Regions from separate parts of the Homo sapiens genome. Here region 2 is linked to region 1. The links come from fine-mapping of genetic effects on gene expression. A gene starts in region 1. The other region holds a variant in brackets. All regions are shown on one strand. Distances are from middle to middle. Region 1 holds the start of CMKLR1 (chemerin chemokine-like receptor 1). Region 2 overlaps CMKLR1 (chemerin chemokine-like receptor 1).

What was found.
Region 2: its variant is fine-mapped to the expression of CMKLR1 in whole blood (INTERVAL, PIP above 0.99).

Annotation. Positions count from the first base shown.
Region 1 is chr12:108,338,068-108,340,972 of GRCh38, forward strand. CMKLR1 (chemerin chemokine-like receptor 1) reads right to left here and starts at 1,244. Exons shown (of 4, transcript NM_001142343.2): 1 at 960-1,244. RefSeq lists an enhancer at 677-1,300 and a silencer at 1,408-1,527.
Region 2 is chr12:108,314,880-108,317,784 of GRCh38, forward strand. The region is part of intron 2 of CMKLR1 (chemerin chemokine-like receptor 1); the gene reads right to left. Among named protein-coding and RNA genes, the nearest start is that of CMKLR1, 23 kb to the right of the region's middle. RefSeq lists silencers at 1,253-1,547, 1,653-1,947 and an enhancer at 1,663-2,181. The variant C/T (reference allele first, on the strand shown) is at 1,564.

The DNA of each region.
Region 1 (2,905 bases):
TGAACCGCACAGGTCTGAGTGATTGGGCTTATATCAAGTAGTAGTTCCCTGATGTTGTAATGCTTATAATTTTGCCAAAGCTGGCTTGCCCATTTAAAATGGGCTATTCTGAAGACAGAGGAGGGAGTGGAATATTTTCAACAGAGAGTGCCGGCAAAGGTTTTGTGTCCTTTATATACAAAGAACCCTTAGATATCAATTGGAAAAAGATAAACATGCCCCCAGAGGAGAAAAAAATGGGAACAGACTTGAACAGGAGAGTCAGACTAGAAATGTGAAAAATAAGTTTATAAAAGAGAATCAACACTAACAAAGAAATGAAATGCCTATTGAAGCATCTAGATATTATTCTCGACTTCACATCAGGGAAAGTTTAAGGGATGGGTAGCAACAAGGTGGGTTTAGTATGTGAGAATACTGTGCCCTGGTATAACATCGTAGAGAGGTCAAGCTGCCACGGCCTTCCAGGGTGCAGTGTGACCAAAAGCTCAGAAGTCTTAAAAATAGGCAAACCTTAAATCTAGCAATTTCTAAAAGGTATTCATAAGACACACACACAAAGATGTCATACTAAATATTCATTGCAGCACTGTTCTAATAAAAAAAAAGAAGCAAATCTATTATGGAAAAGTCAAATAATCTTAAGATAGCCTTTCTATGCAGCCATGAAAAATGTATATTGGAAGAATATAGGTGATATGGAAAAAAGTTCACAATCTGTGGTTAAGCAGGTTACCAAACTAGATGTGGAAATCCACATTCATATATTTAGTTGTGTATCCTTGCTATTTCTTTAAACAATGAACATGCATTACTTTTGACATCTGAAAATAATAACAAAACTCTTCCTTTTAACAAATATGAAATTATAAAAAGAAACAAACTTTTCTCTCTGTTAGTATTCATTCCCCTTCCCTGGCCCCCCTCAGAAGACACCCAAGGCAAGTGTGTGATGATACCTTCCCTCTGGTCTCTGCCCGGAAGGTCTTCCTGAGGGTTCCCTGTGACTGCAGGCCACTCGAGGCTGTTGGGGAGACTTGCACACCCTGGCTTCTTTCTGCCAATCACAGGCTCCTCTGGCTGTGGCTGTTTGCCCAGAAAGCAGTTCATTCATTTGTTCATTCAAGATCCCCCTCTGAACCCCCAGAGCGCCGCAGCTGGAACACCCCTATCACCCGGAGGCTTCCCAGGGAGCCTGCTCTGTCCTGAGCTCCCTGCTGGCCGCCGGGGCTGCTTCCCTGAATGGGACTGGGACAGAACTCAGCCAGAGAAACAGCTGGAGGGAGGAGAGCAGGAGGGAGGGGCAGGAAACTGGGCTGACCTAGGGCGGGGGCGGCTAGCTGCGTGGAGAGGGGGCTGCGAGGGGAGGGTGCCCCTACCAGCCGGGGACTGGGCTTGTGGGTGGCGGCGGGGGCCCGCTGGGGACGACCCGCCCCTCTGGCAGCCTCTTGCAGCCGGGGAGCCGTGCCCACTGAGCGCAAACAGGGAGCACATCTGAGCACCCGGCTGCTGGGGGAAGTGCAAGCGCCTCTGCTCCCGGTGAGGGGCTCAAGCTCCACACTGACCGAGAGATTGGCTGCCTCTCACCCTGGGCCTTTGCAACGCTGTTCCTCCCACCTGGATGCTATTCCTGCCCTAATTCGTGGCCCGATGGTCTCCTACTGCCTCTTCAGGTCTCAGGTTGAAGGTCACCTCCCAGGGAAGCCTTCCCCAACCCTCGGGGGCTGCTGTGCCCCTCAGGGTCACCCCATCACCTCACTGATGCAGTGCTGTCCTTGCCTGTTAAGATGTCTCTCTCCTTGCACCGAGAACTCCTTGCACCAGGAACTCTGTAGGGAAAGAACTGTATTCTGTTCCCTGCCCTAACCAGGCGCTAAGTGCCTGGTTCATCGGCTGTGTGGTCACCATCATTAGTGGAATAATCAAAACAACCGACAGCCAGGCAGCGTGCTAGGCGATGCGTACTTACTCTTCACGGCAACCCTAGATAACAGGAATTATTACTACTCCAGTCTTACCAATAAGGAAACTGGGGTACAGAGAGATTAAGTCACTTGCTCAAGACCACACCGCCAGCAGCTGACAGAGCTGGGATTCCAACTATGTTGTCTGGCTCGGAGGCCCACCCTTGGCCTCCAGACTGAAGAAATAACAGAAGTGCCCATGTGGGCCCCTGTGCCAAGTGCTTCCATGGAGTAAGCCGTGTGAACCACCACCCACGTCGGGGGGGCATCACTTGCCCATTCTACACATGAGGATGCTAGGGCCACAGAGCAGAAGTCGTTTTGCCCAGGGCGCCAAGCTCATGCTGACCGAGCCATGGCTGGATCTGAGTCTGTCTGATTCCAAAGCCAAGACTGCCTACGACTGCCTAAAATAATATTTTTAGAAAGAAAAAGAAAAGGGAAGGGCAGGGGAGGGGAAGAGAGGGGAAGGGAGGAGAAGAAAGAAAGGAAGAAAAGGGAGGGCAGGGAGGAAGGTAATGGGGAGGAGGGGAAGGTGAAGGGAGAGGGAGATGGGGAGGGAGGGAGAGAAGGAGAGAAACCTGTGTTTTGGGCCTCAAAGTCTTGGGCAGGTGGAGGACTATGTCCTCATCGTCTGATCAGCCTTAGAACCCCACCGACCTCTCCCCACCATCCTCAATCCTTTAATTCAGTGAGCTTTACACTTAGAAACCATCTAATTTCATTCTTCCATTTCACAGATAACTTGAAGCCCAGAGAGATTGAGTCTCTTGCCTGAGGTCACACAGGTCTCTATAGTCAGAAGTCAGGCCCAGTCTACCCAACTGTCTTCCTTGCTCTCTTCTTCTTTGGGCTTATCTAGGGAACAAAACATCATATCGAAACACTTACTGTACAGATGAGAACACTGAACCCAGAGGAGGCAAGGGACTCACCCAAGG
Region 2 (2,905 bases), 23 kb before region 1:
CATGCCCAGCCCGAGGGACATCATTCTCTATGGCCCAGGCTCGAACACAGCCTTGTTTTTTTTTTTTTTTTTTTTGAGACGGAGTTTTGCTCTTGTTGCCCAGGCTGGAGTGCAATGGCGCAATCTCAGCTCACCGCAATATCCACCTCCCAGGTTCAATCGATTCTCCTGCTTCAGCCTCCCAAGTAGCTGAGATTACAGGCATGCGCCACCACACCTGGCTGATTTTGTATTTTTAGCAGTGATGGGGTTTCTCCATGTTGGTCAGGCTGGTCTCAGGTGATCCACCTGCCTCGGCCTCCCAAAGTGCTGGGATTACAGGTGTGAGCCACTGCACCCAGCCCAAACACAGTCTTTCTCCACACCAGCTGGGGGTGGGCCTGGGGCATCCTTATACTCACCTATCTGTGAACATATTTTATGAAACAGACAATCATGACAAAGACATACTTGATACACAGGTAGAGTGACCCTCCATCCTGGCTTGCCCACAACAATCCCTGTTTATGCTTCTTGTCATGTTCCTTTCATTCTCAAAGTGCCCCAGTCAGGACAATAAATCCTACAGTTTCCCTACTCATAGATTACTCCCTCCTCTGGCCTAGAAGCTCCTGTGTACTAGCCTTGCCCACCTACTTGTGCCAGGCCCTAAGCTAAGCACACGTCCTGTGTCATTAAATTCCCATAAGGGTCCTGTGAGGCAGGTACCACCATGATCCCCATTTGACAGATGAGAAAATGGAGGCTCAGAAAGGCTGTGGCTGCTGTTTCAGGAGGTAGCCATGTGCCAGGAACTTTCCAGGATTTAAACACCAGCTGGTTCTGCACAGATGGCTACTTTCACTACCTCTATTTTCCAGATGCAAAGACTGAGCCTTAGTTCACTGATAAAAGGGTGGCTTACCAAAGCCCCTATGGTTTCAGCCAGGAAAGGACCACAGAATGTCCAAATTTCAGAGTCAGCTTCCTTCAATCCGGGCTCATGAGCTGTGGGTCCCTGGGCAAGTGACATGGCCTCTCTGAGCCTTGATTTATCTCATTGGTAAAATGAAGATGAATCTTGCTGCTTACTGTTGGGTGAGTGAGGAGCAGACGCAGGACCAGCACTTGGACCCTGCGCCTCAGCCCAGCTCTTACAGCTCTAAGAGGAGGGGATGTGTTCCCCCCAGGAAGTTCATAATCCTCAGCAGAAACAGTGCATACTTCATGGAGTCACTGCAAAATGAAAATGCAGCCCCTTATTCAAAAATTACTGAGAATTCAGGACAGCAACTGCCAAGTGTTAAACAAAGCACAGGCCTTCTGAGCCCTGTGTGGCTGCACTGGTCGCCAGCCTGAGATGCTGGCCCTGCCCCTCAGCTCTAGGGAATTTGAGGGAAGAGCCCTCTTCACTTCAGGCCCCAGCAGGGCAGGGGCTCGGCGGGATAGGTGATCTTAGGAGGGAGGAAGAAGCAGCACAGCCAAGAAAGAGCAGAGAGAACAGAGGATGACACCTCCTCAACGTAGACAGAAAGAGAGGGGGAAGAGGGGCAGGGAGAGGAAAGCCAGCAGGAAGAGGAGAGA[C/T]GCACAGGGACTGGAAAAAGGAGGACAGAGCGGTCAGGGCAAAGCAGCAAAGTGGCAGAAGAAAGACGAAGGCAGGGTGAAGAAAGTCCCCAGGAAGAGAGACCCAGAGGCAAGAAGAAAGGGACAAGGCTAAAAGGAGTCTTCTGCCAACCTCTGAGAAGGTTTAACAAGACCCCATGGAGCCACCCGGTGTGGGCAGGGAGGGGCCCCATGAATAGCTGTCCTCCTGGGGTGAGGGCCATTTGCTATTGCATTTGCATACATTTAAAAGCACAGGAAAGGCAGTGCTGGGGATTTCCAAAATCCCCAAAGATCAGGGAGCTACGGGCAAGGTGTCAACCCCATAGCAGAAATGGGTGGGGCTTTTGCTTTGGGATGGAAAGCCACAGGCACCGGTTGGAACCGCCAGTGGGAGCTCAATCACAGCTCACTGCAGCCTCAACCTCCCTGGGCTCAAGTGATCCTCCCACTTCAGCCTCCTGAGTAGCTAGGACTACTACAGGCATACACCACCACACCCCACTAATTTTTTTTGTATTTTGTAGAGATGGGGTTTCGCCATGTTGGCCAAGCTGGTCTCCAACTCCTGGACTCAAGTGATCCACCCACCTCAGCCTTCCAAAGGGCTGGGAATACAGGCATGAGCCACTGTACCCAGCCTCAATGTCATTGGTTGATTTTAACAGGAAAAGGTGTGATTTAACACACAGCCTGTTTGGTGGTGGGCTGGAGGCAGTGTTTGGGAAGGTCCTGGCAGACACAAGATGAGCTGAAAGCCATCCCAAGCAGTTCTCTTCATTGAGCATGGGTTTCAGTCATTATGTGCTCTAGAGGTTCTCTTCATCCATGGTTATTAGTGTCAAGGAGAGCCCACAAGAACGCATTGTTTTCCCTACAAACATTTCACCAAGAGCTTGGAATGAAATGGCAGGTCCACTATGAGACATAGGTATTGACTACCCATGGCCTCAGGAGGCCACCAGGAGTGCATCACGGTCATGAGGATGATGTGGACACTGGAGGGAGGGGTGGGCTCTGTGTAAACCCCACAGGACTCTCTCAGCTGGTTCAAAGTGGGCCAAAGGTGGCCTCATTCTGACATCAAGGAAAGCCGTAGTCAGCTGGGCAATAAATCCAGCTAGTTTGAAAACTCCAAATGTGCTTATGTCACAATCAAGGAGAAAATAGGAATGAAAACCACGGGCCTTAGAATTTACAACACACATACTATTCACATAATAACACTGTTAGCCTAACAGCCATCCATCCACAATTCTAATAGGCTTTTTGAATTTAAATTGCTGACCAGGCATCACAACTCCTTCTAACTGGTGATGTTCAA